Linked DNA regions of Homo sapiens: region 1 is linked to region 2. Evidence: fine-mapped expression QTL. A gene starts in region 2. The other region holds a variant in brackets. All regions are shown on one strand. Distances are between the middles of the regions. Region 1 holds the start of DBNL (drebrin like). Region 2 holds the start of STK17A (serine/threonine kinase 17a).

The links.
Region 1: its variant is fine-mapped to the expression of STK17A in monocytes (Quach 2016, PIP 0.95).

The regions. Positions count from the first base shown.
Region 1 is chr7:44,035,212-44,051,659 of GRCh38, reverse strand. DBNL (drebrin like) reads right to left here and starts at 6,958. Exons shown (of 13, transcript NM_001014436.3): 1 at 6,840-6,958; 2 at 1,380-1,435. The coding sequence starts at 6,922. It overlaps LINC00957 (long intergenic non-protein coding RNA 957), which reads right to left and starts at 12,611. Exons shown (of 3, transcript NR_072982.1): 1 at 12,511-12,611; 2 at 11,298-11,766; 3 at 7,364-7,407. It also overlaps the pseudogene RASA4CP. RefSeq lists enhancers at 6,260-6,760, 14,777-15,276 and silencers at 6,699-6,918, 11,036-11,145, 11,236-11,325. The variant G/TG (reference allele first, on the strand shown) is at 9,354.
Region 2 is chr7:43,575,087-43,591,534 of GRCh38, reverse strand. STK17A (serine/threonine kinase 17a) reads right to left here and starts at 8,427. Exons shown (of 7, transcript NM_004760.3): 1 at 8,086-8,427. The coding sequence starts at 8,291. RefSeq lists enhancers at 4,550-4,609, 7,338-7,447, 7,578-7,627, 13,574-14,075, 13,207-14,406 and a silencer at 8,028-8,807.

The sequences.
Region 1 (16,448 bases), 460 kb before region 2:
CTAAACTGATTGATGAGAGCTGGGTGGGACCTAGAAGTCTGCGATTCTGACAAGTACCTCAGGTAATTTTTTTTACCCACACTCGTTTAAAAACCACTTCTCTAAACCCAGAGGTAATTCTGGAAATAAAAACAGGGTCATTTCCACGGCAAACCAGCCACCAGACTTCCAAATGGAGGATGGCTACGTCAAAATTTTATTGTTGCCACAACGTTGCAAAAGGGCCCGGAATAGCAGGGCCTGTAGAGTCACCACTGCCTGCACCTGTGTCTGCTCAAGTTCCAGGGCCACCCAGACGGCCAGACCAGATTGAACATCCTGCAGTGGCGTAACTGGCTCAGTCCTCAGACTCCAGAAGAGAGGGTGATGGGGACAGGGGGAGCACAGGAGTGGGCAGCTCTAAACAATTCTCCCTGACACTGAGGCTTAGCCCTCACAAACTTTTCCAGGTTATAAGGAGGAAGAGCTGATCAGGTATTTCATCTACAGGGCTCCGTATGAGTGGAGGCAGTCATGAGCCCCACTCTGGGGACAGCAAATTGTTGCATTTGTGGCAGAGCCCTGTCCTGTGCCACTGGGGATGACAGGAAACTCTCAAGTTGTTGATCTCTGCAACTCCCAGTCACCTGCCACACCACATGTCTACTGTTCAATGGCAATCCTTCTAGAAAGGGGACACCTCCCAGAAAGATTGTGAAAGGAAGGGGCTTTCTACCAACAACAGACATCAAACCGTGGAGAACCACTCCGAGTGTTCATTGAACAATGAAGCCATGTCCAGCTCAGGACAGAGGGAGGGGTCAGGCAACTTCTGGAGGAGGAGCAGTCACGGGTGTCAGCTGAGGGGCCCACAGGTCACACTCTGACGAAGCCTACCCTGACAACCTCTGCTCTGTGCTGGCCAAGAGCCTGTCCTTCCTGTAGAGACCTCCAGAGCCTCCCCCGTGACTATCTGCAGTGATACTGCCTCTCCCAGTGAGGATGGGGCCCCTGCAAGCACTCGGCACAAGACCAGGGCAGGACAAAGGGAGAAGAAGATATGTCTGTGGACTTTCTTTCCACCAGCACCAGTTCTGGGACTGGTGAGCTTCCCACCGCAGCTCCCAACGCAGGCTGCCCACAAGCTGGAGAGGCCTGTTTCCCTCTCAGCTCTCCCCAAGTAGACAAAGAGAAAGCACTCCCCTGCACCCAGAGGGAAGGAGAACCAAGGAGGAATGTTTTCACTTACACATATCTGAAACCTAAGGCCTGCCAGAAGTGGCCAGTGAGCACTGGAAGCCCCATGTGGCTCAGTGGACCAAGACAGCTGAGTGCGCTGACCCCTCGTCGTCACCCTCCTACCTCCTGGTGTCCCTGAGTCCATTTGGAGTCATACTCACCCCCTGTGCCAGCCACGCGGATGTCATTGCTGTTGCCTTCATAGGTAAAGAGAGCCCTGAAACGAAACACAAGTGAGCTCTGTAGCCAGCACCTTGGGTTCCATCTCTCCTCACCGTATCCACCATGACTTTCCACTACATCCCAAAGAGCTTGGGCTGACAGTAACACTGTGGGTGGGCACAGGCCCGTTCTCACTTTGCTCTGACCCACTAGGCAGGTTCTCAGTAGGCAACTGTGCAGCCTTCTCAGCTCTGCAGCTGGGAGGACACTGGCCTGACTTACCATGGGGTGGGGGTTGTGAGGGACAAAGCCATGGAGATGGGAGCACACATCTACTATGAGGAAAACATGAGCTGTGGAGTTTCCCAATGACTGCTATACATTCATGTGTCAAATACTCACCTGGCCACTAGGTATATGGATTTGAAGAGACAAAACATATCTACATATTCCTGAACCCAGAGCACCCAAAAGGAGAAGCAAGTCGGAGAAATACACACACTGGGCCCCTTGGAAGGCTGCCCACCACTCCTGTGCACGTCTGCCCTGGCTCCAGTGAAGCCTGGTGGGTAGGGCAGCAGGTCCTTCCAGGCTTGAGACTCTTTGGTAAACACAGACTACCACAGGTTGTGTTTATCAGAAACCACAAAGGAATGACACGACATGAAATCACACAGTTAAAGCCATGAACCTGCCAAGCCCCTCACGGACAGGTACCCATGAGCAAGTTTTCTATCTAGCAGAGCCTTATCTCTCCATGGGTGACATGGGGCCATGGCTTTCTTTTCCTGAAAGATTAATTATTCATAAGAACTTTGGGCTGGGCGCAGTGGCTCACGCCTGTAATCCCAGCACTCTGGGAGGCCGAGGCGGGCAGATGTGGATCACGAGGTCAGGAGATCGAGACCATTCTGGCTAACACGGTGAAATCCCATCTCTACTAAAAATACAAAAAATCAGCTGGGCGTGGCAGCAGGCACCTGTAGTCCCAGCTACTCAGGAGGTTGAGGCAGGAGAATGGCATGAACCCGGGAGGCGGGGCTTGCAGTGAGCCAAGATCGCGCCACTGCACTCCAGCCTGGGCAACAGAGTGAGACTCCATCTCAAAAAAAAGAACAGAACTCTGGGCCAGGTGGGTGGCTCGTGTCTGTAATCCCAGGACTTTGGGAGGCTGAGGCAGGAGGGTCGCTTGAGCCCAGGAGTTTGAGACCAGCCTGGGCAACATGGTGGGACCCTGTCTCTACCAAAAATACAAAAATCAGCCAGGCGTGGTGGCATATGCCCGTAGTCCCAACTACTCGGGAGGCTGAGGTGGGAGGATTGCTTAAGCCTGGGAGGTCGAGGCTACAGTGAGCCATGATGATGCCATTGTACTCCAGCCCAAACAACAGAGTGAAACCCCAACTCTTAAAAACAAAAACAAAAACAAAACTCTGGTAAAGATTCATTCTGGCTTGCTAATAGCATGAACCTTGCAGCAACTGAACATCCCCAGCAGGGCTGCTGGACATGGGCTGGAGGCACTGACCCACTGGACTATAAGTCAAAGGCAAAACCCAGTCCAGTGTGTGTCATCTCCCCAGGCTCTAAAGCACAGGCCTGCTGAGGCAGGCCAGACAGAAGCTCCAGGGATAAACAGTCGGACAGGAACCAAATCAGCTTCAACTTGGCTTCCCCAGGGCTTTGCCAGTGCCACTGGGCAGAGATACTTATGCCTCAGAAAAATGGAAGAAATTAGACCCAGGCCCAGTGGATCTGGTTGGTAGGGAGGAGACAGGCCTCCGGGAAAAGGCACTCCTTACCAGGAGGGGAGACAGAATACAGGAGAGAAACACTGAATGAGAAACACTCAGAGAAAAGGAACTAGAGAAAAGAACACAGAAAAACAAGAGAAAGATTTGGGAGGTGGCACACTGCCAGCATGAGCTGGGGGGAACTCCCTGGAGGAAAGAAGCCCATTCCTCTTGATGGCCACAAAGCCCTGGCTCCCAGAAGATAGCAAGCTGGCACAAGCAGCAGGTAACAGAAGATGGCAGCTCAACCCAGCTCTTGCAAGAAGGGACTCAACCAGCTGCGATGGCTCATGCCGGTAATCCCAGCACTTTGGGAGGCCAAGGCGGGTGGATCACCTGAGGTTAGGAGTTTGAGACCAGCCTGGCCAACATGGGAAACCCCGTCTCTACTAAAAATACAAAATTAGCTGGGTGTGGTGGTGGGTGCCTGTAATCCCAGCTACTTGGGACGCTGAGGCAGGAAAATCACTTGAACCTGGGAGGCAGAGGTTGCAGTGAGCCAAGATCGTGCCACTTCACTCCAGCCTGGGCGACAGAGCAAGACTCTTGTCTCAAAAAAAAAAAAAAAAAAAAAAAGGGACTCAGCAGCTAATATAATAAGAGCCAAGCTCAATGCCTGCCACCTATCCCTCTGACTTGATCCCTCTCTACCCCAGGCCACCTTTAAGAATGTTCCCAGCGCAGAGGCTCATTCCCAGTTCAGAGGCCTTTTGAAAGAAGGGCGAAGGAAGTTTCAAATCAACATGAAAAAACATGGTGCACTGGCCTCTGAACAGCAAGGCATATGGAGTGTCAAGCATCTTATAATTCAATAGTGCCTTTGAAAATAAGTACTGAGAGCCTACTGCTTATTAGTTACAGGAATGCAGCTATGAACAATCCCTAAAAGGTCCTGCCCATGGAACTTACTTTCTAACGGAAGAAAAAACACACACCTAACACTAACGTACTATTAGAGAGTGAAGCAGGTGCTGAAGGTGACACATGAACCAGGTGAGAACAAACCATGCCAAGATACGGAGTAAGCAGGGGCGGGAGACAGATCCAAGATGGAGAGCTGATGTCATGGTTGCTCCCCACTCTATCTGCCCTCCCCAATGCCAGCACTGTGTGTGTGAAACCTCTTATGACCCACCAAACTAGAGACCACCTCTTCTTCCTCTGATATCTCTACCACTTTTTCTGTATGACTTGGTCCATCCTTCATCTAAGCATCTGCCACATGTAACAACCGTGCCTCAAGCACCGAGGACAGAGACAGAGCCCACCCCACCCCTTCTAGTAAGAGATAAAGGTGACAAGAAAATCCATAAGGATTTCCAGCATATTTTGTGTCTGGCATGTGTCTGAAGGAAGTCAAACAGAAAGATGGGAAAAAGTGCCTACAAACAAGGAGCTAGGAATCAAGGAAGGCCTCTCTGAGAAGGCAACCTCGGGGCCAAGAAGTGAAGGCTGGGGAGCCACCTGGGACGATGTGGAAAAAGTGTGCTCCATGCAGAGGAAGCAGCAGAGCAAGGACTCTGAAGAGGAACCAGCTTGTAAGTTTGAGGAAGAGAAAGACGGCCAGAGTGGTGACAAACAGGTGTGGCCACAGTGTGGTAAATGAAAGGGGTGGTAGGTTCTGGGTCATGCAGGGCATCAGCAGGGCAAGGAGTCTAGGCTTTATTCAACATGCAACAGGAAGCCACTGTAGAGTTACAGACACGGAAGTGACATGGTCCAGATATTTTTCCGCAGTGTGCAGGAATCTGCCACATAGTATCTGCTGAGTAACTACCTTAATGGCTGTGACGATGAGGGTGGAGGTCAGTGGGTTATGCTGCTGAGTGACACAACCTGTAGTGCTGCAGGAGCCTGGAGGTAGGGAGGGAGCATAGCATGGCTGTCTGGGCAGATGAGTCCAGTGAGATGGGTGGGTTCTGACTTCATGAGGGGAAAGAGGAGGCTCCACAACCCTCATGAGGGACAGAGAGTAGATGGGGTGGGTAAGCACCGGGCCAGGAGTGGTAGCAGACAGCTCTCGTAAGCAGCCCAAGGAAAGGCTAGGAACATAGGAGGTCTGAAGAGGGAAGCCCAAACTGCCAGGTGGGCTGGGAGGCATCATCCCAAACCAGTGATGGTTCCTGAGAAGACTGATGATGAAGAGAGACCTGGAAGGGAGATAGATGAGGAGTGCCAGGAAGCTCCTAGGTAAGTCTGCCAGGGTAAACAGAGTGATCAAGAGCATGTTAAGAAGCAAAATCTTTAATTTGGCAGGGCTGAAGAGGGGCAAAGATTCTTCTGGGTTCTAAAGCCAAGTGGTATGATGTGGACATGAAAATGGGGCACTCATTGCAGAGATACTTTTGACTGGGTTTGAAGTAACAGGAGAGGTCTAAGAGAAACACGAACAGGAATAGGAGAGAGGCAAAACAGAGGGCTGACATCTAGAAACTCTCCTGAGAAAAATAACACTGACTGACGTGGGTAAATCTGAGGGATTATAAAGCAGGCAGAAAACCCCACCAAGGAAATGACGAGATATCCTTCTTTAGATGCCTCCAAAACAGAAGATGTGCTGTTTGGCATAAGTGCCATCCAGGGCACTCAGACCTGACAGGAGAGTCTACAGAGACCCCATAGAACCAAGCAACTGGTGTTCTAAAGCTCTTCCCCTAATGGCCCAGGGCTGAGGAAAAAGCAAAGCCATAACATCCTCAGGGTCACAATAGTACACTGCATAAAAGCCGCTCTGTGCTGGGCACTACGGAGAGCAGAGGAGATGAGAAAGCACTTACACAAGTGGAGATGGCCCCCACACAAGGGGAAGACAGTTGGGAGGGCCTCAGTGCTGACCACAGTGTGGCCCCACCACGACTCAGACTCCAAGGCCCAGTTTCTATTCCCCAAAGTTGGTCACCTTAGCCCACCATACTCAGCATATTTCTCAGAACTGGGATTTCTCAAAACTGGTCAGTAAAAACAATTTAAGCAAAGAGGAAAGTGAGGATATCTTGGGTGGTAGAGGGAAAATGGGACCTTTTCCCAAATAGATAGCGAGCATCCTACTTTCGTACATCTTCCCATGGCTCAGGCACAAGAAAGAGTACACTTTTTGGAGAAACGAAAGTTCTGAAGTCCACGTTCACAGACAGCCAAGAACCCAGATCCCTGAGCTCCTCGTCTGAAGCCCCCAGGGCAGGGCTCACATTCACAGCCCGGCTGCCAGGCCGCTCTCAAATGCCCATCCCCGAACACAGCGTTTGCAAAAAAACCGGGCGTGGCTTCCGCCTTCTCAGAGAGGGCTGTGCAGGAACCCCTTCTCCAGGGAAGTCCCAGGACTGGAAAGAAGAACCTGGCGAAGCTAGCAAGCACGACCAGGCCGAGGATCCAACATGGAAGCCCGCGAAGCCCACAGTGGGTGGCGAGCGACAGGGGGAGGGGCGGGGACTCACTGGGTCCCCCCAAGCCGGGTTTAACCTGTCCACGATCGGCGGGGCAAGGGGTCACGAGGGTGAGACAGCACTCCTGCTGCGGTGTGGAGGGGCAGACAGGTAAGCCCCAGGCCACCTGCCTGGGCACCGCTCCGCGCTCGCGCTCCCGCTCCCCCCGAGTCCCCCGCTCGCCCCAGACAGACCCACCCCTGAGGCAGCCCCTGGCCCGACCCTGGCCCGTCTCGCCGCCCACCAGTCGGTCGGGGACTTCTCGGTGACCACCCGCACGTAGGCCTCTTGCAGCGCTGGCCCGTTCCGGCTCAGGTTCGCCGCCATGGCCCGCCCCGCAGTCTCCGCGCCGCTGCTGTAGCTTCCGGGCCGGGCCGGGCCGCCCCTTTGACAGCCGACAAGCCTCGCCTCCGACAACCGGAAACCCCGCCCCACGGCAGGAAGCGGAAATGGTAGGGGCCAGCCGCACCCGCGGGTCCTAGCGAGCTGTCCGGCCAGCTGGTCTAGCATGCAGGTCCCGCGAATGCCGAAGGACAAGCGGGAGAAGGGAGGACCCGGCCTTCTGTTTGTCCTCAGGGAGGGATCCTGGGGCGCAGACTAGCCCGTCTTCTGGTCCCACCCAAACGGCAGCTCGACTTGGAAGCCTGGCCGCAGGGACCCAGTCCAGCCCCCGCTAGCTGCTCTCACAGCACCGTGCTTATTCTTTTCTAAATCTTGTTATGTCGATGCGCTTATTTGAACGATCTTGGGTTCACTGCAGTCTCCCTCCAGACGAGGTCTTCAGCCTGTTTGTGGACCCTCAACAGTTTGATCTGTGAAAGAAACATGCATAAATGTATGAATACACGAATAAATGAGTGCTAAGTGACGATCACACCGCTACAAACCTAACTGAAAGTGACTGTGCTTTCTCACTCTCACCTGAGTTTTTCCCTCTGCAGTTTGGTCGAGGCCAGGATAGTGGAGGCATGAAGAGAACCTGTCTTGTGCTTCACCTGCACATCTGGCTGGTCGCCCCTAGAAGGTGTCAGTAATTCCTCAATCTGCTCCCCTCCTCCTGGGAGCACCAGTTTTTCCATCCACAAATCTGCATACACTTGACTGAACTAGCTTCTTATCTGTATGATAGAGAAACATGCCAAAGCGCAAGGCAGCTCACGGCTTATTTCCTCCCATGGAGAATAACTCCCCTGCCTCCTTAAAATATAAATCCTGCCGGGCACGGTGGCTCACGCCTGTAATCCCAGCACTTTGGGAGGCCGAGGTGGACGAATCAAGGGGTCACGAGATCGACACCATCCTGGCTAATACGATGAAACCCCGTCTCTACTAAAACAAAAAATTAGCCAGGCGTGGCGGCGTGCGCCTGTAGTCCCAGCTACTCGGGAGGCTGAGGCAGGAGAATGGCGTGAACCAGGGAGGCAGAGCTTGCACTGAGCCGACATAGCGCCACTGCACTCCAGCCTGGGCTACAGGGCGGGACTCTGTCTCAAAAAAAGTATAGTATATATATACATATATACACACACATAGTATATATATGTGTATATATATACACACACACATAGTGTATATGTATATATACTATGTGTGTATATATGTATACATATATGTATATATATGCATATGTATAGGTATACATATATGTATATATGCATAGGTATAGGTATACATATATGTATATATATGCATAGATATAGGTATACATATATGTATATATATGCATAGGTATAGGTATACATATATGTATATATATGCATAGGTATAGGTATACATATATATGTATATATATGCATAGGTATAGGTATACATATATGTATATATATGCATAGGTATAGGTATACATATATGTATATATATGCATAGGTATAGGTATACATATATGTATATATATGCATAGGTATAGGTATACATATATGTATATATGCATATGTATATATGCATATGTATATATGTGCATATGTATATGTATATGTGCATATGTATATATGCATATGTATATGTATATATGCATATGTATATATATGCATATGTATATGTATACATATATTATATATGCATATGTATATGTATATATGCACATGTATATATATACACATATGTATATATATGCATATGTGTATATATATACATATAGTATATATATGTATATATCCACAATCCCTTAAGTCCAGATGTGCTTTGGAATTCAATCTAAGATTTCAGAAAAGTTATACCATGTATGTCCTGGGTAAGCCCTTATCACAGGATCTGGACAGGAACTGGTAATCAGACATGTTCATGCTTTTGCTGTGATATGTGTGAATAATCAGCTAAGTGTGTGATATGTGTGAATAATCAGCTAAGTGGAATATAAGACGACTCTAAATATCCTCATGACAATTAAGGTCAGTTTTTGCTACCAAATGAACTACCAAAATCTTAAGGTGTTTGAGTCTGGATGGTGCAGATAAGGGCTTGTGAACCTAATTTGGACAAAAACATGGTTCATTTGTTATGCCCATTTTTCTTTCTGTTCACATGATTGTTGCTTGTTGTCTTGTTTGTTTTGTGCTGCTATAACAAAGTACCACAGACTATGTAATTTACATAGAACAGAAATTTATTTTCTCACAGTTCTGGAGGCTGGGAAGTCCAAGGTCATGGCACTAGTATCTGATGAGGGGCTTCTTGCTGCATCATAACATGGTGAAAGGCAAAGAGGATGAGAGAAAGACAAAAAGGGGCCAGACTCATTCTTTTTTTTTTTTTTTTTTTT[G/TG]AGATGGAATCTCACTCTGTAGCCAGGCTGGAGTGCAGTGACCACGAACTCGGCTCACTGAAACCTCTGCCTCCCAAGTTCAAGTAATTCTCCTGCCTCAGCCTCCTGAGTAGCTGGGACTACAGGCACGTGCCACCATGCCCAGATAATTTTTGTATTTTTAGTAGAGATAGGGTTTCACCATGTTGGCCAGGATGGTCTCGATCTCTTGACCTCGTGATCTGCCCACCTTGGCCTCCCAAAGTACTGGGATTACAGGTGTGAGCCACCCTGCCCGGCCCCAAACTCAGTCTTTTCTAATGAACCTGAGGCAGGAGAATAGGGGCTGGAAGCAGGCAACAGAACGCCAATGCACACTAACCTCCTAGAACCAAATCAAAAGGAAAACGCCTACTTATGACCAAGTAACAAAAGACCAACACCCTGTTCCGGAGCAACTCTCTGGCCTCAAAGTCCATGGAGTCTTTTCTGAAGGTGAGGTTGCATGCTATATTGTCCTCATCTTGCAAATGACAACACTGAGCTTCAGAGAGAGCGACAGAGGGGGCTGGGACTTCGACTCCAGTGTTCTATCTCCATATTGAGAGCCCTTTAAGGTTAAGAATGTGGCTGGGCATAGTGGCTCATGCCTGTAATTCCAGCACTTTGGGAGGCTGAGGCGGGCGGATCACTTAAGGTCAGGAGTTCGAGACCAGCCTGGCCAACATGGCGAAACCCCATCTCTACTAAAAATACAAAAATTAGCCTGGCATGGTGGTGGGCACCTGTGATCCCAGCTACTGGGGAGGCTGAGGCAGGAGACTCACTTGAACCAGAAGCCAGAGATTGTAGTGAGCTCACGCCACTGCACTCTAGCCTGGGCCCCGTGCTAGACTCCGTGCCCCGCACCCCCCCCCCCCAAAAGAATGTGTGTGTGATTAAAATTTAAGTTAGAGACAGTCTCACTATGTTGCCCAGGCTGGTCTCAAACTCCTGGCCTCAAGTGATCCTCCTGCCTCGGCCTCCCAAAGTGCTAGGATTACAAGGGCTAAGAATTCTAGTCATTCATTCACTCACTCATTCATTCATTCATGAATAAACAGTTTGCCCTGCTTGTGTACCTGTCCCCCTCCTGGGCGGATACGGCAGGCAAACGGTGCAAGGGCGGCTGCCGGGAGAAGGTGGGCAGCTGGAGTGGGACTGGGGGAGACAGGATCAATGTGACCTGCGGTGGTCCCCAGGTGGCCGGGATGCAGTACCTGCACGGCGTCCTGGGCCCCATCATCAACAAGGTGTTTGAGGAGAAGTACGTGGAGCTGGACCCCAGCAAAGTGGAAGTTAAGGATGTAGGGTGAGGCCGGGGGTAACTCCGGGGGGGTGCGGGGCGCAGCGGCAGCGGGTTGGGATCAGGCCCTGTCAGCATGTGTGTTTGTGCTTCTGCCCACCCGTGTATTGTCCCCTGTGTCCGTGTCCCGGCTGCTGTGAGAGCCACTGTTCCTGTCGTGGCCCTGGCGCTGACCGTGACCTCCTCTGCCAACCCGCCCCGTTCCACGCAGGTGTTCCGGGCTGCACCGCCCGCAGACCGAGGCCGAGGTGCTGGAGCAGAGCGCGCAGACGCTGCGCGCCCACCTGGGGGCCCTGCTGAGCGCGCTCAGCCGCTCGGTTCCCGCGTGCCCCGCCGTGGTGCGCGCCACCTTCCGCCAGCTCTTCCGGCGCGTGCGCGAGCGCTTCCCCGGCGCCCAGCACGAGGTGCGCCCTCCACCCGCTGGGCTAGGCTGGGCCGGGTTGGACTGGGCTGGGGCGAGGGGCGGGCGAAGAGCGGTGGGGAACCAGGGAGCGCTGGGGAGGACCAGGGAGGCTGTGTCCCGGCGAGGGTCAGGGACGGAGCCTAAGGGGAGGGGGCTGCCAGGAGCCCTGGTCTGGGGGACTCCAGCCCGCGCTCTTCCGCACCCCTCCAGAATGTACCGTTCATCGCCGTCACCAGCTTCCTGTGCCTGCGCTTCTTCTCTCCCGCCATCATGTCGCCCAAGCTCTTCCACCTGCGGGAGCGCCACGCGGACGCCCGCACCAGCCGCACCCTGCTCCTGTTGGCCAAGGTGCGGGCCTTGCGGCCACGGGCGGGATGCACAGCTGGGTGTCCTACCGGGGCCCTGGCCTGGACTGCAGAGTGTTCCCTACCGGCTCCGGCGAGGCCACTGGCACGCCCACGTAGGCACTGCACTTCACAGTTTGCAAAGCCTTCCTGTGGCCACCTTGTCCGAGTTCCATCTCATGGATAAGGGAACAGGCCTGCGAGGGGTCGGGGGTTGCCAAGGCCGCCCATCCTGTCGGTGGTGAATCGCGGGACCTTCCAACCCAGGTCTGCTTACTCTCAGGCTGCACCTATGTGCCCGGCACCGGGGTGGGGTATCCAGTGCAGCAGCGTCAGTTAAACCTACAGAGGAAGGCCCAAGTGGTCTCAGTTATCATAAGGCATCAAACTTCATGATCCTCTCCTCCCTGATCCCTAGTGGGGCTGGAGGGGGCCCGTGGGCATGGCCTCTGTCGCCTCTGCCTCCATCGCTACAGCTGAGTAGCAAAGACTTGGGGAGGGGGGGTGGGAGGGGGTGCAGTGGCTAGGCCCCTAACCTAGCAGAACCTGGTCCTTCCTGCTGTCACCTCCAGGCAGTCCAGAACGTGGGCAACATGGACACGCCGGCTTCCAGGGCCAAGGAGGCTTGGATGGAGCCGCTGCAGCCCACCGTGCGCCAGGGCGTGGCGCAGCTGAAGGACTTCATCACCAAGCTCGTGGACATCGAGGAGAAGGACGGTGAGCGCCGCCCTGCACAGACCCGCCCACAGCCTACTGCTGACGTTTGCTCCGCCCTTGAGCCCCACGGCCCCACCCACCGCTGTTTGTTCCTCTCGTGGCCCCACCCACCGCCTGCTGTTGACATTTGCCAGGCCCCCAGGCCATAGACCCACGCACCACTGTTTGTGCTTCCTGTGACCCTGCCCACTGCCTGCTGTTGACGTTTGCCCCACCCCTAGACCCATGGCCTCACCTCCCATCATCTGTGCCTGTTGACATTTGCTCCATCCTTGAGCTCCATAGCCCCGCCGCCACCTGCTACTGACGCGTGTCCCGCCTCCAAGCCCATGGCCCTGCCTTCCTCAGTCCACCTGTCACCCCGCTCACCACCAGCTGTTGATGTTTGCTCCGCCCTTGAGCCCCATGACTACGTCCACTGCCTGCTGTTCAGATTTGCTCAGCCCTTGAGCCCCATGGCCCCGCCCACTGCTCCGCCCCCCCCCCCCAGTCCCGCCCTCATTCCCTGGGCTCTCTATTCCCCTCCCTCCCTGGCCTGGCAGAGCTGGACCTGCAGCGGACGCTGAGTTTGCAGGCGCCACCTGTGAAGGAGGGGCCACTCTTCATCCACAGGACCAAGGGCAAGGGCCCCCTCATGTCCTCCTCCTTCAAGAAGCTCTACTTCTCCCTCACTACCGAGGCCCTCAGCTTCGCGAAGACGCCCAGCTCCAAGGTGGGTAAGGAGGGAGGCCGGCAAGTGGGGCTCTGAGAGGCCGGCAAGTGGGGCACCTTAGAGGCACCTGTCCCCTTCCTTGGAGCCCACTTGAGGTACCCCCGGGGTCAGAGAAGAAAGCCAGGTGTGTGGCATCTGTACTGCTTGTCAGAACCTAGGAGGGCCGGGCACGGTGGCTCACGCCTGTAATCCCAGGACTTTGGGAGGCCAAGGCGGGTGGATCACTTGAGGTTAGGAGTTTGAGACCAGCCTGGCCAACATGGAGAAACCCCGTCTCTACTAAAAATACAAAAAATCAGCCGGGTGTGGTGGTGGGTGCCTGTAGTCCCAGCTACTCGGGAGCCTGAGGCACGGGAATCGCTTGAACCCGGGAGGCAGAAGTTGCAGTGAGCCGAGATCGTGCCACTGCACTCCAACCTGGGCAACAGAGCAAGACTCCGTCTCAAAAAAAAAAATGAATATGGAGGAAGTTGATCCGACCTTACCAGGTTGTTGAGGATTAAATGAGATGATCTCCCTAAGGGTCCTGACCCAGGGCCTGGCAGGTAGTACTATTTAGGCAAATGGTATTATTAAAGATAGTACATCACCTGGGCTGCTAGATGAGTAGGAGGCTAGGGCAAACAGGGGAGGCTTCCTGGAACGGGCAGGAATATAGAAGCATGGAATCTTGGTGTGGGAGGGGATCTCAAAGATCACCTTGTACAGCCCTCTCTGAGTCATGGGTCACCTCTCCTGCAAGCTCTCTTCTCCCAGGAAGGGCTGAGGACATACTTCCTCCATGGACCTGGTGACTGCTTGCTGTACACCTGCCCCTAGTCATGCAGGCTATGGGGATGATCTTCCAGGAGTACCCAGCCTAGCCCTGGGCAGGTGAGAGCAGGCTAGGAGTAGGTGAAGGAGCTCATCACCCACCCTGTTCTCAACCAGCTCAGGGGTCCCACCAGATGAGGGGCCCGCCCCTTCCGACCAAAGACCCCTCAGATGATGATAATTATTTTTTGAGACAGGGTCTTGCTCTGTCACCCAGACTGTAGTGCAGTGGTGCGATCATAGCTGACTGCAGCCTCAAACTCCTGGGCTCAAGCAATCTTCCTGCCTCAGCCTCCTGAGTAGCTGGGACTACAGGCACGTGCCACCAAGCCCAGCTAATTTTCTTTAACATTTTTTTTTTGCAGAGATGGGGTCTTGCTATGCTGCCCAGGCTGTTCTCAAACTCCTGGCCTCAGGCAATCCTCCTGCCCCAGCCTCCCAAAGCACTCAGATGATTATTATACATCTTCCTTGCCAGGGTTGAAAGATTTGACTACATGGGCATTATTTAATTCTGGTCCCATTTTTTTTTTTTTTTTTGAGATGGAGTTTCACTTTTGTTGCCCCGGCCAGAGTGCAATGGTGCGATCTTGGCTCACCGCAACCTCCGCCTCCCGGGTTCAAGCGATTCTCCTGCCTCAGCCTCCCAAGTAGCTGGGATTACAGGCATGCACCACCATGCCCGGCTAATTTTGTATTTTTAGTAGACACGGAGTTTCTCCATGTTTGTCAGGCTGGTCTCGAACTCCCAACCTCAGGTGATCCGCCTTCCTCGGCCTCCCAAAATGCTGGGATTACATGTGTGAGCCACTGCGCCCGGTCAGGATATGACTGTTAGAGCTTGGGACTACAAAAGCAAGTTGGAAAATTAATAAATGCAAAGTCACAAAGCCTTGGCCACGGCTGGATTGACTTTGTAGCCCAGGGAATGCTGGCTGTCCAGACACTACCCCAAAGCTCACACCTCCGAGGCCTTCTGGGAGTGCCCCCCAGAGAGGCCAGGTCCTCCTCTCCCAGTTGCTGGGCACTTGGTCACCATCAGTCTGTGCTCTGCCCTGGCTGAGGTCACTCTGGGTCTCCCACGCCTACCCCTGGTGCTGCAGAAGGGGAGACTGAGGCCCAGAGATGGGGAATGGAATGCCCCTGGCTAGGTCCCTGAGCCTCCTCCTCCCTGACTGCCCCAGAAAAGCGCCCTCATCAAGTTAGCCAACATCCGGGCAGCAGAAAAGGTTGAGGAAAAGAACTTTGGCAGCTCGCACGTCATGCAGGTCATCTACACGGACGACGCCGGCAGGCCCCAGACTGCCTACCTGCAGTGCAAGGTGCGGGGAGGGGAGCGGGTGCTGTGGGAGTGGCCTGAACACTGTGGGAGTGGCTTGGGTGCTGTGGGAGTGGCCTGGGTACTGTGGGAGTGGCATGAGCCCTGTGGGAGTGGCCTGAGCTCTATGGGAGTGGCCTGGGTGCTGTGGGAGTGCCCTGGATGCTATGGGAATGCCCTGGGTGCTGTGGGAATGGCCTGGGTGCTATGGGAGTGGCCTGAGCTCTGTGGGAGTGGCCTGGGTGCTGTGGGAGGGGCCTGAGTGGACTGGATGAGAAAAGAGTTGATTGAGCCTCTCGCCCCGCTACCAGCTACATCAGGCACCGCAGGGTGTGTCTAATCTGGGAGGTGTCAGGGACAGGTGTGTGTGTGTTGTCCAGGGGCCTGAGCCCCCAGGAGGCCATGGCCCATGTCTTTCCCTGGGCATCCATGTGTAGGTCTGTGTGTGGGCCAGTGCACAGACAGGTGCATCCCCGTGATGTGAAATTTGCACGTTGCACCCGTTTGTTGGAAACTATTTCCAGATAACTGAGATGGGGGCCAGGCACGCTGGTTCACGCGGATAATCCCAGCATTCTAGCCGGGGCAACAGAGCAAGACCCTTTCTCTAAAAAAGAAAGTCTGAGCTGGCACCTGTGTGGTTCTGTGTCTGTATCAATGCCTAATAATCAAACATTATGCTCTGTGTGGCTCTGGGTGCATGTTCTCAAGTAACCTTCTCATCTGTTCCTTCATTAACTCATTCATTCATTTATTTAAAAAATACTTACTGAGCACCTCCTAGGTTCCAGGCATGATTCTAGGTGAGGGGATACAGTGACAGATGAGGCAGAGTCCTGCCCTCATGGAGCTGATATCCCAGGGAGAAGATGGGCCAATAAATACATGTTTCAAATGTCGGCTCATGCCTGTAGTCCCAGTACTTTGGGAGGCTGAGGTGGGAGGATCACTGGAGGCCAGGAGTTTGAGAACAGCCTGGCCAATGTAGCAAGACCCCATCTCTACAAAAAAAAAAGTAGCCAGCCATGATGGCATGCACCTGTGATTCCAGCTACTTGGGAGGCTGAGGCAGGAAGATAGCCTGAACCCAGGAGTTGGAGGCTGCAGTGAACTATGATCACACCACTGCACTCCAGCCTGGGCTACAGAGTGAGACCCTGTCTCTTAAAAAAAAAAAAAAAAGCAAATTGTGATAGTGACTTGAAGGGAACCAGAAGGGACTAAGGGAGCAAGGGAGGGAAGAGAGTGGGGTATAGCAGGGAGCGGTCTGTCCTATTAAGAGTGGTCAGGGAGAATACAAAAATTAGCTGGGCGTGGTGGCGTGTGCCTGTAGTCCCAGCTACTTGGGGGGCTGAGGCAGGAGAATCACTTGAACCTGAGAGGTGGAGGTTGCAGTGAGCTGAGATCGAGCCACTGCACTCCAGCCTGGTGACAGAGCAAGACTCCATCTCAAAATAAATAAAT
Region 2 (16,448 bases):
TTCCAACATATCCTGTACTATACTAGGGTCAGCAAGTTTTTCTGTGAAGGGCAAGCAAGATGGTAAATATTTTTGGCTTTGTGGACCAGAGGGTCTCTGCAGCAATGACTCAAGTCCACTGTTGCAGAACAAAAGCAGCCATACAAGAAAGGTAAATGAATGGGTATGTTTGGCTTCCAATGAACCTTTTACACTGAAATTTAATTTCATAAGCTTTTCATGTTATTAAATATTACTCTTATTCTAATTTTTTTAACTATTAAAAAATGTAAAACATAAAAAATGTAAAAACAGCTTGCAAGGCTTTCAAAAATAGGTGGCTGGCTGTAGTTTGCTGACCCCTGCTCTATCCTATGCTGAATAAAACTCTTCCATCATTCTAATACCACATACCACTGAAACTGACATTATGACAGCAGGTCGCAATGATTTGAGGAAGCATGCATGCCTTCATCTCTAAATGACTGGTGCAATGGGAGGGGGACCCTTCAAACCACTCAAGGAGGAGTCAGAGAAGATAATAACGGATTTCTTGGAGCTGTTCTACACAGCCACATTGTATAAAGAAAACAGGAGATTCAGCATTCAAGCTGCAAAGTCCCAGTGTATATGCTCAGAATTACATTGACAGAGTTCCCTAAATTCCATACCTCAAAAGGGCTCCAACATGCATATTTTACCATGACTTTATGGTAAAAATTGTGACTGTACCTCAACCTTTAACTTTAGGTTATTGAGTCCTCTACAAAACATTTTAAAAATGATGTTTCCCTGACATTATGGGCCATGGTTATATACAGCTCTCTTGGGGCTGATGAGGTCCAAAGGGCATAAGATGTTTGTTGCACATCTACTTTTTTTGTTGACTCAAAAGCCAAACTTCTTCCTGGAATAAACAGTTGCCATAATTTTCAGGTATATTTTTTCATTTCAAAAACATCTATATTTTGCTAATAGGTACAAAACTGAGAACTTAGGTTTTCATTAAATATTTTGGGATGAATATCAGAAATGAATACATTTCAGAACTACTCACTGAAAACATATTCCAGAGAGGTGGGAAAGGTAAGATACATAAACAATTATAACAAGAGGAGGTGACATTTGATTGAGACCCACCAGTCCGAGCTCCCTAAGTCCTTTGCATTATCAGTGCCTAAAAACACTGCTTAGGGAGACAGGGTGAGTATCTTTAGGTAGGTATGTTTGCTAAGGAGTTTGGGCTTCATCAGGCTTAAAACTGGAACCTATTAGAATACTGAAAATAATTGTTTAGAAAAGATAATTCTGGTTGGGCACGGTGGCTCATGCCTGTAATACCAGCACTTTCGGAGGCTGAGGTAGGCGGATTGCTTGAGCCCAGGAGTTCGAGACCAGCCTGGGCAACGTGGCGAAATCTTGTCACTACAAAAAATACAAAAATTAGACAGGCGTGGTTGTGTGCACCTGTGGTCCTGGCACTTGAGATGCTGGGATGGGAGGATCAGTTGAGCCTGGGACATCTAGGCTGCCGAGATCATGCCACTGTACTCTAGCCTGGGCAACAGAATGAGACCCTGTCTCAAATAAAATAAAATAAAATAAAATAAAATAAAATTAAAATTAAAATTAAATAAAATTAAAATAAAATTATAAAATAAAATAAAACAAAACAGGTAATTCTAATAGTGTTGTGAAGAGTGGATTGCCAGTGATAACTAGAAACAGAGAGGCCAATAAAATAATTCAAAGCAGTAGGTCTGCACTCAAGTACCAGCGTAGGGACTGGGAAGAGAGAATATGTTTAAAAGACACTCAAAGTCAAGATTTATTAGCACTCCCTGGCAGGTGTGAGTTGTACGCAGAGATGAGAGGAGAAAGGAAAGGTGAAAGTCATGGATGACTTTTAGATTTTTAATATAGGTACTGTGTAAATGTGGTACCAGTTATAGTACTGTGTAATGTGGTAGGAGTTATAGTTGGACAGAAGGTTGAGCTGCCTTTTTTGGTAAAGAGAATCCCATTTATTGAAGGGATTCCAAATACAAATTCAAGTGTTGGATTATAAGCAAAGGTGAAGAGATAATAGAATATATAACATTCAGGTAAACATCAGAAAATGCACATGCTAATTTGAGCAGTACAAAGGGGAAGTAAAATAATGTCCAAGGTCCTGTTTTATTCTAGGTTAAAGTGCTTTGTTTATACCTTTATTATATTTATGTCAATCTTATATATTACAACTTGTTGTACTATGTCTCCCAGCTGGACTGTGAGTTTCAGGGACCTCACTTATTCTTCATCTTTTTATCTCCATAGTGCCCTGCACATGGCAGGTGTGCAAATATAATCAGCACACCTAGTATATATACTGCTTATTATTTTGTTAAATAAAAGTTTTATGGCAACTTAACCTCATGACATTTAATATACTGGACTACTTGCCATTCTCTCTTCACTGAATTTTTCTACTGCTCTGACTTGCTGTTTTATTGACAATGGCAACTACTACTGAAATTCCATCCATTCTTTACAGCCCAACTGAAATGTTATTTCCCCCATAAGACCTTCCAGTGGCATATCATCTTGCCTATAAAGGGGACAGTGATTGATCTGTTACATTTGGGAATAGCTTCCAGAGCCTAAGGTAGTGCTTTTATGTACTTGATACATAAGTACAGTATTTGCCTAATTACACTGGAGTGATGTCTTTTTTCTTTTTTTGAGACACAGTCCCACTCTGTCACCTAGGCTGGAGTACAGTGGCACTATCTCTGCTCACCACAACCTCCACCTCTCAAGTTCAAGGAATTCTCCCGCCTCAGCCTCCCAAGTAGCTGGGACTACAGGTGTGTGCCCAGCTAATTTTGTAATTTTAGTAGAGATGAGGTTTCACCATGTTGGCCAGGCTGCTCTCAAGCTTCTGACCTCAAGTGATCCGCCCACCTTGGCCTCCTAAAGTGCTGGGATTACAGGTGTGAGCCATGTCTTAAACGTAAAGAAGTTCCATTCAGGAAAAACCTAGAATGGATTTTGTCTTCCTTATCGCTGAAAGGACCAAGGAAAAGACCCTAGGCGTAAAAATCAGTGAGTCCATTCAAATAAGACATTAGCATGCGTGATAAGAAAAGGCAGGGCCTTACAAGTCAAACTTGGTTTTAAATTCTGGCTAACAAGTGTGTAATACTGGGCAATTTATTAATCCTTTGGAACCTGGGATTCCTCATCTGTAAAATGAGATCAATGGCACTTTACCATACAGGGCAGTGAAGACTATACAAAATTACATCTTTAAAGTGTGTAGCATTCAGCAAATGATCAATAATCAGTGGCTATTTTTATTGTTTTTGGCATTAATTTCAGATCTATGATATAACCAATGATAATAATTTAAAAAAAATATCAGAACAGGAGTTCTGGAGGTGAGCTATTAAGTCTACATAATGTGTAAATTCTCTCAAGAAATCTAGTTAACTTCTTACTTACCTGAAGAGGTGACTATAGCTACTTAGCTTTCTAATGCATTTGGTTCAATAATCATATTTTATAAAATTGTGTCATCTATGGTTTTATGAAAAGATTAAAATTCAAATTCTTACATTCATGTATTTTAAATTAAGATTTTAACATTTGAAGCATGAACTTTTCAAAATTAAACAGCTGACTGACTTAAAGTACCTGCCTAAGAGCAGAAGCCATACTTTCCAAGTAACTTTATTGTTGAACCACAAATATGGCCAATTTTCTTTTATCTATCCAAAGTATCAGATTACCCAAAACTGTTTGTAAATAAAATTCTTCAAACTAATGACTAGCTGTCAAGAAATCTTAAATAACATCTGTGTTAAAACAAAGCAATTTCTGCATGGATATTACTTAATAAAGGTCTTTATTTGTTAAAAAATGATAACTTATGACACACGCTTAAGTTCTTGTCAGATACAAAAACTGAAGCTATTACCTACAGCCATCAATCTAGGTAAGGACACACAGTCCCCAAAATACCCACCCAGAGTCCCCTTTCAGTTTGAATATTCTCTTATTCTCTGATAAAAATCCTCTCTTGTCCCTATTACCCCTGACTGCTCTGAGGAGAATGAGATAGGACATCCCTAATTTACTTTAAGGCCCCAGTGGGAACTTAACTATATGACACTGAAGCTTGGTCATGTTTGTTCCAATGTAGAACTCATTAACAGATCCTTTCCCCTGTCTCTACTAAAAATACAAAAAATTAGCCAGGCATGGTGGCAGGCGCCTATAGTCCCAGCTACTCGGGAGGCTGAGGCAGGAGAATGGCGTGAACCCAGGAGGCGGGTCTTGCGGTGAGCTGAGATCGCGCCACTGCACTCTAGCCTGGGCGACAGAGCGAGACTCCATCTCAAAAAAAAAAAAAAAAAACAAAAAACAATAAAAACATATCATTTCATTAAAATGACAGGAAATTGCTTTAGTCATAAGATACAGACTACAAATTATTCTTTGAAAAACATGTGTGGTGTAATGGGAATGATTTCAAAGTCAGGAGTCCCAGCTCTGTTATCTCTCACAAGACTTTTAAATCTGTCTTTGTTTTCTCATCTGAAAAATGGGGCTTTCCAAACAGGCTTGTGGTGAGAATCAATGAGATAATGCATGTGAAAGCACTTGTAAAACTGTAAGGCCTGCACATTATAAAGTACCTGTTTCAGATGGGAACTTGTATTTGTAACTTTTTTCCTTAGGAAAATCCAACTATTAGCATGTACTAATATTTTTAAAGTGTTCTTTTGGCTTAAAATATTTTTTTCTTAAGAAAAAATTTATCGGTATATTAAAAACATTAAAGTTGAGGACTAGATAATGAAAACAAATGTAAGGCAAATCATTTGCTATGAAACTGGTGTTATCTTTAAGTTCCTTGAAACATCTTTCTGTTTCTATATTATCAATAAACTCAAGGGAAATCAACACGAAAAAATTATCAGAACCCAAGGTCATTTCTCTTGTGTGCCCCAGTAACGAAATCATTAATGTGGTTTACATTGGCATACATCCTGACTCAAAGAAAGGTAACAAGCCTTAACCAGTCAAGCTTCAAGCAATAAAAGAATGTTTTACATCATATATTTACCCTTATTTACGCTGCTATGGACTCTGTTGGAGACATGAAAGAATGCAACATTTCTTAAATGATCAACATCACATCCTGTCATTACTCTGGAATCAATGTTGACCATTTAAAAAATTCTCTTTGAACAGTCATCTCATTGAAAGTTTTAGATCTGTGATAACATAGTAGCACCTGAAAAAGAATGATTTGTTTGAACAGTTAACTCATCACACCCCTTCTGCATTTTACTAAATGAAAGGCCATAGAATAAAATGAAAAAAAAAATCTGTTTTTCTTCCCACATCATTAAACTATTAACACGGGTATTCTCCAAGTTCTTTATCAGCGTGAGATTAATTAGTTATATCAGAAATGCAACCAGAGTTAATTGTTGGAAAAATAGGTTTTCTATCTTATCAAAGATGAAGCAGAGACACACTTAGCTATGTTAAAACCATAAATACAGGCAAAGTTTATAAAACTTAAACAAGGACTGCTTATACACAAACAGAACTTTTCCTTCCTGAGACTTCTGAACAGTTCCTGTGACTTCATTACTTTTGCCAGACATAGAGGCATTTTTTGAGATTGTGCAGGTTTTCTTTTTGGGTTACATTTAAAATAATAACATTTATTGAATTACACCATGAATTACATTTATTGAGTGCTTCCCCTAAGCTAAGCACAGCCTTAAGGCTATGTGTTTTACTTAATTCTCTCACCAACCCTATGAGGCAATAAACGGTTAGGTAATGCACTCAAGTCCACATAACTAGTAAGAGCCAAGATTCAATCTCACACTGTCTGACTCCAAAGCCAATGTTCTTAAGCACTGCATTAAACTCCTATGCGATAAAAAAGGGTGCCACAAGGGAAAGAATAGATTTAATTTTATTTTTCAGTTCCAGGCTCTTATATCAAGTATTTATCTAATAACTGCATTGTTATGCAGCTTTACAATCTACTCCTTTTGTAAAGAAATTTATGTAAGAAAAGATATGTAGAAGATATCACAATCTTAAAAAAAAACCTGATCGGAAAGCTAATTTTATAATGGAGTTTAAAACAAAAGTTGAAAGAAACATTCCTGAAGGAATTGGTACCATAACACCTGGTGGGGTGCAAATCAGTTTCCAGATTATAACATCTCCAAGACAGTGCTTGCCACCTGAAGACATTCGTTTTGTAATATTTGCACCGGTTTTCCTTGTGGAATGAAGCCAGACAACCAAATAATGGAAAAACGTAGTTTTCCTTTTTTTTTTTGGAGATGGAGTCTCACTCTGTCACCCAAGCTGGAGTGCAACGGCGCGATCTTGGCTCACTGCAACCTCCGCCTCCCGGGTTCAAGTGATTCGCCTACCTCAGCCTCACGAGTAGCTGGGATTACAGGCGCCCACCACCAGGCCCAGCTAATTATTGTATTTTTGGTACAGACGGGGTTTCACCATGTTGGCCAGGCTGGTCTGGAACTCCTGACCTCAGGTGATCCACCCGCCTCAGCCTCCCAAAGGGCTGGGATTATGGGCGTGAGCCACTGCGCCCGGCCAGTTTTCCTTTTTTCAGGTAATAGGGGTTACTTCAGAATGTTTGGAATGTCGACAAATTAGAATACACAGCTAAGTCACAGCTCCCTTCATCTTTTGTCACAAAGTATGCACAGATCCAGTCAACTAGGGCCTAGCAGTGAAGTAAATCTTGTTCCTGAAAGGTGTTTTTCCTTTTGTTAACATTTAGGAATAAGTAAGACTTTGTTAAGGTAGGATTCCACCCTCCCTACACCCCCACCCCCCAAAAAAAACTATTTCCAAAAGTTACCTTAATATGTGTAAGGCAGTGTGTTTTTAACATTATAACCAATGTTACATTGTTTGCCTTTCCAAGACCCCAGCTGAAGGCTGTTCCAACTGTCAGGCCCTTTCCCATTACAACATGGTGCTATTTTGCAACCATGACAAATGCTGGCAATAATGCGAACATTTACTGAACGCCATGTGGCAAGCCCAGTGGTATGCGCTTGACAAGCATGGCATCTTCAGGCCACCTCTGAGGTAGGTACTGTCATCATTATACGATTTTACGGATGAGGAAAGTGAGGCTGGAGAGTCTAACCCCTCCAAAGGCAAACACAGCAAGAAGGGCACGAATATGAACTCAGGTCTGCCCCCAAAGCCAGAGTATTTAACAACTTCTTCAAACTGTTCTCAAGGAAGAGTCGCCAAACCCCACAAAAATCACTCGATCACCCCTCTTCAGCATACAAAATGTAAAGCATCCGAACAGCCTGCACCTGCAACTTTACAGACCAAGTTGTAAGCTCTCTCTACTCCCACAAAAAAAGGGTGGGCTAGCGTGGGGTGGGGGGAGAAGGCAAGAATCGGTTCCCAGCAAAGTAAAAAGCGAGAAAAGGGCCAAGCGCCCACGAAAGAAACCAATCTAAACTCGAAGCAAAGGGACCTAAATGCTTTAGAACTAAAACGGCAGAAAACCAACCAAGAAAACGAAAATGAATTCAGCAGAAGACCGACACAAGGTAACAGAGCGCCGGTGCAAAGGAAGCGGTCACAACGGATGCTGTATTTTATTAAAACCACACAGGCAGACCAAGAAAGTCGCAAGAGTTGAAGGAAAAATGCAAAGTCGGCTCCACAGACCTCTGGTTTTCAGACCCGCTGCTCGGGGTGAAAGGCAGAGCGCGGCCCGCACCTTCTCTCGTTAAATAGCCATTCGAAACGCCACAGAGAACGAAAGGGCTGAGGAAAGTGTCCGCGCCTCCGGGACCGCCATCGAGTTACCACCACTCGCTTGCTGGGCGCGGCGCGTGGAGGGGGCGCTGGTGCGACTCGGCTGCCCTACTTGCCGTCGGCACCCAAGTTTGTGCCAAGTCACAACGCGCGTTATCGGCAGCAGCAACGCCACTTCAGCCTCGCCGCCGCGGCGCCGGCACTTATCGGCGCCCACGTCCCGCCCCGCGCGTCCGGGAAGGTTCCGCGCCGGGCCCCGCCCGTCCTCACCTGCCCAGCTCCCGGCCCGGGCACAGGCTGTAGCCGTCCTGGAAGGGCTCGGTGCGCACCACGGCGCGTATCTCTGTCAGCAGCCCGCGGGCCTGGGGCGGCGGCGGCGGCCGGCACGGCCCGCTCAGACCCCGGCCTGCCCGGCCCGAGCCTGAGGTGGCGCCTGGGGAGGAGCCGCCGCTGCCTGGCTTCTCCAAAGGGATCATGGTGTTCAGGCCCGCTTCTTTCCTGGCCGCCTGTTCACTCCGAGCAGCCGGAGGGTCACGGACCCGCCCCCGGCTCCTAGTGCCGGTCCGCGGAGCCTTCAAACACCCGCTCTCCCCAGCGCGGCGCTCGGACTGCGGCAGGCAGACTACCGGTAGCTCGGGCCCGCCCCGCGCCCCGCGACCGGCCCCGCCCCCGTGACCGCCCCGCGCCTGCCCTGCACCCTGCTTCTGGCCCCGGCCAACCCCTCCCCACGTCCGCCCCGCGCCCGACCCCGCCCCGGCCTCACTCCGTGGCCGCCCGCCCCCTCGCTGAGCTCCCGCGGGGTCCTGAGCGCCCGATGCCTCACGCGCGCCCTCTGCAGCTCAGGGGGAGAAGGTGCAGCTTTCGGGACGGCCCGGAGGCTGGAGGCGACTCACAGCACCACCCTTTGGCCAGGACAGCCTACTGCGTTAGCAGAGTTGCGCACCTGTTGAGCGTCTGAGAGTCACAAAAGCTGACCTTCGGTTAATAAAAGGCATTTGAGCTGTAAGCGGGACTTCACGTGGTGAGGAGGGGAGGGGTCTGGAGGCACTTCGGTTAATAAAAGGCATTTGAGCTGTAAGCAGGACTTCACGTGGTGGGGAGGGGTGATGAGATCCTGATCTCCGTACACTGGGAGAGGGGTCTGGAGGCAGAGTTGTATAAATATTATTAACCCTGCACACCGGCCCTATGAAATAGACACTATTATATTGTCTGTAGTCGTCTCTATATTTACTTTCGAGGTCCTCTCATCCGGTCTTACGACTTTAATTACCATCTATATGCTCATGACTACAGAATTTGTATCTCTAGCTTCCAAATATTCCCTGAACTTCAGACTGGTGTATTTGACTATGCATTTGGCATCTCCACTTACATGTCAAATTAGCATCTCAGACTTAACATACACAAAAGTAAGTTGCTGATTGGTCTTCATGAATGCACTCCTACCCAGCTTTCCCCGTCTCAGTTTTCTTCATCTCCTTCCTTCTAGCTGTTCAGGCCAAAAATCTTGGGATGAGCATTGATTCCTCTCTCATGCTCATCTCCAGTTTGTCAGTAAACCCTCTTGTCTTTTCCTTCAAACTAGATGCGGCGTTTGATCACTTCTCTCTATTTCCACCTTACCACCATGGCCTGAGCCATCGTTATCTCTTACCTGGATTATTGTGATAGTTTACTAACTGGACCACCTGCTTCCATCCTTCTTTCTCCCTAATGTCGCATAGTTCATTTTCAAGGCAATGAGAGTGATCTTTTAAAAATCGAAACCAAATCACACCACTGCTCTACTCAGACTGTCTCAGTGGAGTTTTGCTTCTGGCACTGATATACTAGTTTATTTGTGTTCAATATTCTCACTAAGAAAAAATAGAAAAGTTGACAAAAGTTAAAAATTTCCTCTCCCAGCAAGGACTTGGATGACTGAAATCCTGGAAAGATAGGCAGCTCAGAAAGCCACCACTTTTCCCATGAGGTATTTGATGATTTTAAAGCCATGGCTGAAAGAGTGAGAAAGTAAGCAGAGCTTTCAGTCATCTCATGGGGTTGGGGAGACAAAAAAAAAATTGGAGTTTAGGACCTATTTATGATGAGGGGCTGGTAAGCAACTAGGCTTTCAGCTGGGACTCCGAAGAGCTATACCCTAGGGGTGTGGATGAACGGGAAATAGACCCAAGGGCTGAAAACCAGCTTCAAATGGCAACAGTAAATATTCTCTCTGGGGAAAAAAAGCATCATTCAGAGCAACACATTACCCATATAATATTTTATACACCATGTCTGAAACTTAATTTAAACAAAGGACACAGAATTGTCTTAAAAACTAAGGGAAAAAGAAAACAGAAATAAACACACAGAAGATCCAGATATTAAAGTTTAAAGACAGATTTTAAAATAATTCTGTTAAATATCTTCAAGAAATTAAATTGCAAGATAAAGAGTTTTCAGCAGAGAACTGGAAACTCCAAAGAAGAATACAATGGAATTTTGGAATTGGAGAAAAAAACACACTAACTAAAACTACTACAGAATTATGGGCTTAATAACAGATGAGATACAACTTAAGCAAGAATTAGTGAAGCTAATAAGCAAAACAAAATATGAAAAATGACATACAAGAGATATGAAAGAACTTTCTATAAAAGAGATAAGGTCTCAGAAAGGAGACTATGACACATGTGATATGTGGTAAAACATTCTAACACACACGTAATTGGAATATCAGGAAGAGAGGTGAGAGAAAAAAGGAAAAGAAGCAGTATTTGAAAAGATAACGGCTGGAAATTTTTTAAAACTAATGAACAACAATTCTCAGAGTCAAGAAACATTATGAACATAGAGCAGGATTTCAAGCAAAGAAAACCATGTCTAGGCACATTGTAAACTACTGAGAAACAAAATCAAAAAGAAAAGGTTTAAAATCAGCAAAGAAAACAGAGATATAATCTGCAAATGAGCAACAATAAAATTAAAAGCTTATTCTCAAAGAACCAATGGAAGCCTAAACACCTTCAAATGTTTTCAAAGCGCTAGGAGAAATTACCTATCAACCTATATTATATACCCAGTAAAAATGATCTTCAAAATTGAAAATAAAATACAGCCAGTTTTATAACCAAGAAACACTAAGATCATCAGCTGATTTACATTAAAGGAAATTCCAAAAGGAGTTTTTCAGGCAGATGGAATATAATCCCAAATGAAATCATGGAGACATCTAAAGGAATGAAGAGCAATCAATCCTTTTATATATGGATAGATATAAATACATATATATATATGGATAGATATAAATAAACACAATTTATATAAAACAATAAAAATAACGTCATGTGAAGTTTAAATATATGTAGAATTAAAATATACACAATAGCAGCACAAAAAGTGAGATAGAGTAAATGAAAGTAAAGTGTTCTAAAGTCCTAGGATTGTATAGGAATTGATAAAAGTACTTGGCTTTAATACATCAATAATGAATATTATAATCTCTAGAATAACAGCAAAAGTAATAGAAAAAGAATGAATAACATGTAAAAAAGAGGGGAAATGAAAAAATAAAAAATAAAAGAAGCAAGAAAGGGAAAAAAGGAACACAGACAAGTAGAAACAAATAGATGATCACTTTGGGAAGCCAAGGAGGGTAGATCACCTGAGGTCAGGAGTTCGAGACCAGCCTGGTCAACATAGTGAAACCCCCATCTCTATTAAAATAAAACACAAAAAACGAGCTAGGCGTGGTGGTGGGCACCTGTAGTCCCAGCTACTCGGGAGGCTGAGGCAGGAGAATCACTTGAACCCAGGAGGCGGAGGCTGCAGTGAGCCGAGATTGTACCACTGCACTCCAGCCTGGGCAGCAGAGTGAAACTCTGTCTCAAAAAAAAAAAAAAAGGTAAATTTTTTAAAACAGGAGGGTTTTTTGGCAAGTACATTAAATATAAATGGAATCTATACTCCAGTTAAAAGGCAAATGCTATGGACAGAATTAAAAATAATATCAATTATATGTTGCTTGTAAGAGACACCTCAAATAAAAGGCTACAGAAAGATTGAAAGGATGGAAAGAATTATGCCATGTAAATACAGGCATATCTCATTTTATTGCAATTTGCTTTATTGCACTTTGCAGATATTACATTTTTTACGAACTGAAGGTTTGTGGCAACCTTGCATCAAGCAAGTCTACCAGTGCCATTTTTCCAACAGTATGTGCTGTCTTCATTTCTTTCTGTCACATTTTGGTAATTCTCACTATGTTTCAAACTTTATTATTACTATTATATCTGTTATGGTGGACCGTGATCTTTGATCTTTGATGTTATTATTGTAATTGCTTTTGGGTACCATGAATTGCACTCATGCAAAGTTAATTGATAAATGTGTGTGATCTAACTGCTCCACCAATCAGCCCCCCATTTCTCTTCCTCTCCTCAGGCCTCCCTATTCTCTGAAACACAACAATATTGAAATAGACCAATTAAAAACCCTAAAACAGCCTCTAAGTGTTCAAGTGAAAGGAAGATTCCCATGTCTTTTACTTGAAATAAAAGCTCAAAATGGTTAAGCTTAGTGAGGAAGGCATGTAGAAAGCCAAGATGGGCTGAAAGCTAGGCCTCTTGAGCCAGTTAGCCAAATTGTGAATACAAAGGAAAAGTTCTGGAAGGGAATTAAAAATACTACCCCAGTGAACATATTAAAAATACTACCCCAGTGAACATAGGAATGATAAAAATAGTGAAACAGCCTTCTTGCTGATATGGAGAAAGTTTGAGTGGTCTGGATAGAAGATCAAACCAGCCACAAGATTCCCTTAAGCCAAAGCCTAATCCAGAGCAAGGCTTTACCTCTCTTCAATTCTCTGAAGGCTGAGAGAGGTTAGGCAGCTGCCAAAGAAAAGTTTGAAGTTAGCAGAGGTTGATTCATGAGATTTAAGGAAAGAGACTATCTGCATAACATAAAAGTTCAAGGTGAAGTAGTAAGTGCTGATGTAGAAGCTGCAGGAATTTATTTAGAAGATCTAGCTCAAGTAATTGATGAAGAGAGCTATATGAAACAACAGGTTTTCAGTGTAGATTAAATGACTTTCTATTGGAAGAAGATGTCATCTAAGACTCAGAGTTAGAGAGTAAAAGTCCAGGCTTGGCTTCAAAGCTTCAAAGGACAGGCTGACTCCCTTGTTAGGGGCTAATGCAGCTCATGACTCTAAGGTGAAGCCGATGCTCTTTGACCACTCTAAAAATTCTAGGGCCTTTAAGAATTATGCCAAATCTACTCTGCCTATGCTCTAGAAATCGAAAAACAAAGGCTGGATGACAGCACATGTATTTACAACATAGTCTACTGAACATTTTAAGCCCAGTCTGGAGACCTAGTGCTCAGAAAAAAAAAATAGATTCCTTTCAAAATATTACTGCTCATTGACAATGTACCAACAACCCAAGAGCTCTGATGGAAATGTGCAAGGAGATGAATATTGTTTTCATGCCTGCTAACACAACATCCATTCTGCTGTCCATGGAACAAGGAGTAATTTTGACTTCCAAGTCTTGTTACTTCAGAAATATATTTTGTAAGGCTGTAGCTGCCATAGATAGTGAATCTTCTGATGGATCTGGGCAAAGTCAATTGAAAATCTTCTGACCATTTTAGATGTCATTAAGAGAATTCATGGTTCATGGGAGGAGTTAAAAATATCAACATTAACAGGAATTTGAGGAAGTTGATTCCAATCCTCATGGATGACTTTGAGGGGCTCAAGACATCAGTGGAAGATGCTTGTTATAGATGAGCAAAGAAAGTGGTTTCCTGAGATGGAATCTACTCCTGTTGAAGATGCCGTAAACACTGTTGAAATGACAACAAACGATTTAGAATATTACATAAACTTAGTTGATAAAATGGTGGCAATTTTGATTCCAATTTTGAAGGAAGTCCTACTGATAGAGGCAAGAGGCAGACAAAGGCCTAGGCAGATAGGGAAGGGTCCCCGGAGAATCTCCAACTCGCCCCACAAGTGTTTACATCAGATGTTTTGTGCAGATAAGGGAACCTGCACAGGGGACTTGCCTGAGCATGCCCGCAGTGAACTGGAGGCCCACAAGCACTGGGGGAATGGGGTGGAGCCACCAGGAATTCGTGTCTTATGCAGGGGAGGAGCCTGGCTAAGGAGCCTAGATAAGGAGCAAAAAAATCCTGCATCACTACTGTGTGGGTAAAATGCTATCAAACAGCATTGCATGCTACAGAGGAATCTTTTGTGAAAGAAAGGGTCAATCAATGTGGCAAACATCATCTTTGTCTTATATTAAGAAATTGCTACAGCCACCCTAACCTTCAGCTACCACCACCTTGATCAGTCAGTTGCCATCAGCATGGAGGCAAGACCCCTCACCAGCAAAAAAATTACAACTTACTGAAGGCTGAGATGATCAATAGCACTTTTTAGCAATATAGTATTTTAAAATTAATGTATGTTGTTTCGCATATACATTCATTTAAAATGTACAATGTATGTACATTGTTTTTCTAGACATAATGCTATTGCTCACTTAATAGACCATAGAATAGTGTAGACATAACTTATATATGCACTGGGAAACCAAAAAATTTGTGTGACTTGCTTTATTATGATATTATTACTGCAGTAGTCTGGAACTGAATCTGCAATATCTCTGGGTTATGTATGCCTATTGTGCCTAATAGAAAATTGGTTGTACCTATAAAAATATTAGACAAAGTAGATGTTAAGGCAAGAAGTATTATAAGAGATAAAATGCATTAGTGAAAAAAGAATCAATTCAATGCTATCTTTAAAAGATAGTATTGAAATATACGAAGCAAAATGACAGAACTAAAAGGAGAAATACACAAATCTACCATCACAACCTGAGATTTTTAACACATTCCTCTCTGTAACTGATAGAACAAGCAGGGAAAAAAATAGAAAGGACATAGAAGCATTGAACAACACAATGAACAAAATTGACATGATACACATACAACACTACAGAATATATATTATTTTGCTGCAAAAAGAATATTTATTGATTATGTAGTGGGTCGTAAAGCACTTTTCAACAATTTTAAAGGACTGAAATTCTATAGAGTATGCCCTATCATCATAGTGGAATTAAGGAAGAAACCAAATGTCATCTATTATTTTGATATAAAACAACCACAACCAAAAGCCACAATCACAAATAAGTGGAAATTGGCCAATTTACTTCTCATCTATGTTGACAGAAAATGCTGGGAAAAAACATTGCATAATATTCAATACCCACTCATGACTGATTAAAATAGAAGGGAATTTCCTAAACTTAAGAAGATACATCTCTAAAAAACCTACAGAAGTATTATCGTTGAAGTCAGAGGCACAGCAAAGTTACGTGCTATCACGACTCTTATTCAGTGTTGCAGTTGAGAACCTAAATAGTGCAGTAAGACACTCTGGCATTAATATTGGAAAGGAAGAATTTAAATGGTCATGAAGGAATAGTCACAATTGTTAAATGTAGAGAATTCTATATTCTACTTCTAGAATATCCAAAAGAATAAACTGGACCGGGCTCATGCCTGTAATCCTAACACTTTGGGAGACCGAGGTGGGAAGATCGCTTGAGCTTAGGAGTTTGAAACCAGCCTGGGCAACATAGTGAAACCTTGTTTCTATTAATGCTATTTTAAAATGTAATAAAAAAGGGCTGGGTGTGATGGCTCATGCCTGTAATCCCACCACTTTGGGAGGGAGGCCGAGGTGGGTGGATTGCTTGAGGTCAGGAGTTCAAGACCAGCCTGATCAACATGGTGAAACCCCGTCTCTACTAAAAATACAAAAATTAGCCGGGCATGGTGGCGGGCATCTGTAATTCCAGCTACTCGGGAGGCTGAGGCATAAGAATCGCTTAAACCCGGGAGGTGTAGGTTGCAGTGAGCCAGGATAGTGCCACTGCACTCCAGCCTGGGTGACAGCATGAGACCCCATCTCAAAAAAGAAAATTTTAAAATAAAAGAAAATAAATAAATAAGTAAAATGTAATAAAAAAGAATCAACTGAAAAATATTAAAATTAATATATTTTAAAAGACAATTAGGTTTAATAAAAATAAATCAATAGCATTCCTACATAATAACAATGAGATATGAAAGCTAATGGGGAACTATTCCATTTGAATAAAATGAAAATAAAGCATGCAGAAACGACCCTCACAAAAATGCACAAAGCTTATATTTTATTTTAAAGAATGTATCTATTCTAAGAGACATAAACAAATGCTTCAATAGAGATACATAGATGAAAAGATTAGATTCTGTAATTCTTTGGAAATAAATCAGTATCTTTAACAAAATTCTAATAAGTCTCAAAAATATGTCTTTTGGAATGTGTTAAAATTATCTCAGAGTTCATCATGAAGAATATCCAAATGAGTGTAGCTAGAAAATTTTTGCAAAAGAAAGTCGTAAGGAGAGAACTGTCCTAACATATTAAAATACAGTATGAAATAAGATAGCTCAACATAGCAGAATAGTTTTGAAATAGAGTTATAATATTTAAGAAACCACAATAAGCCCCAAATCTTCTAAATCATTAAATGTAAAACAAACAAACAAAAACTACAAAATCTAGAAAGAAATGA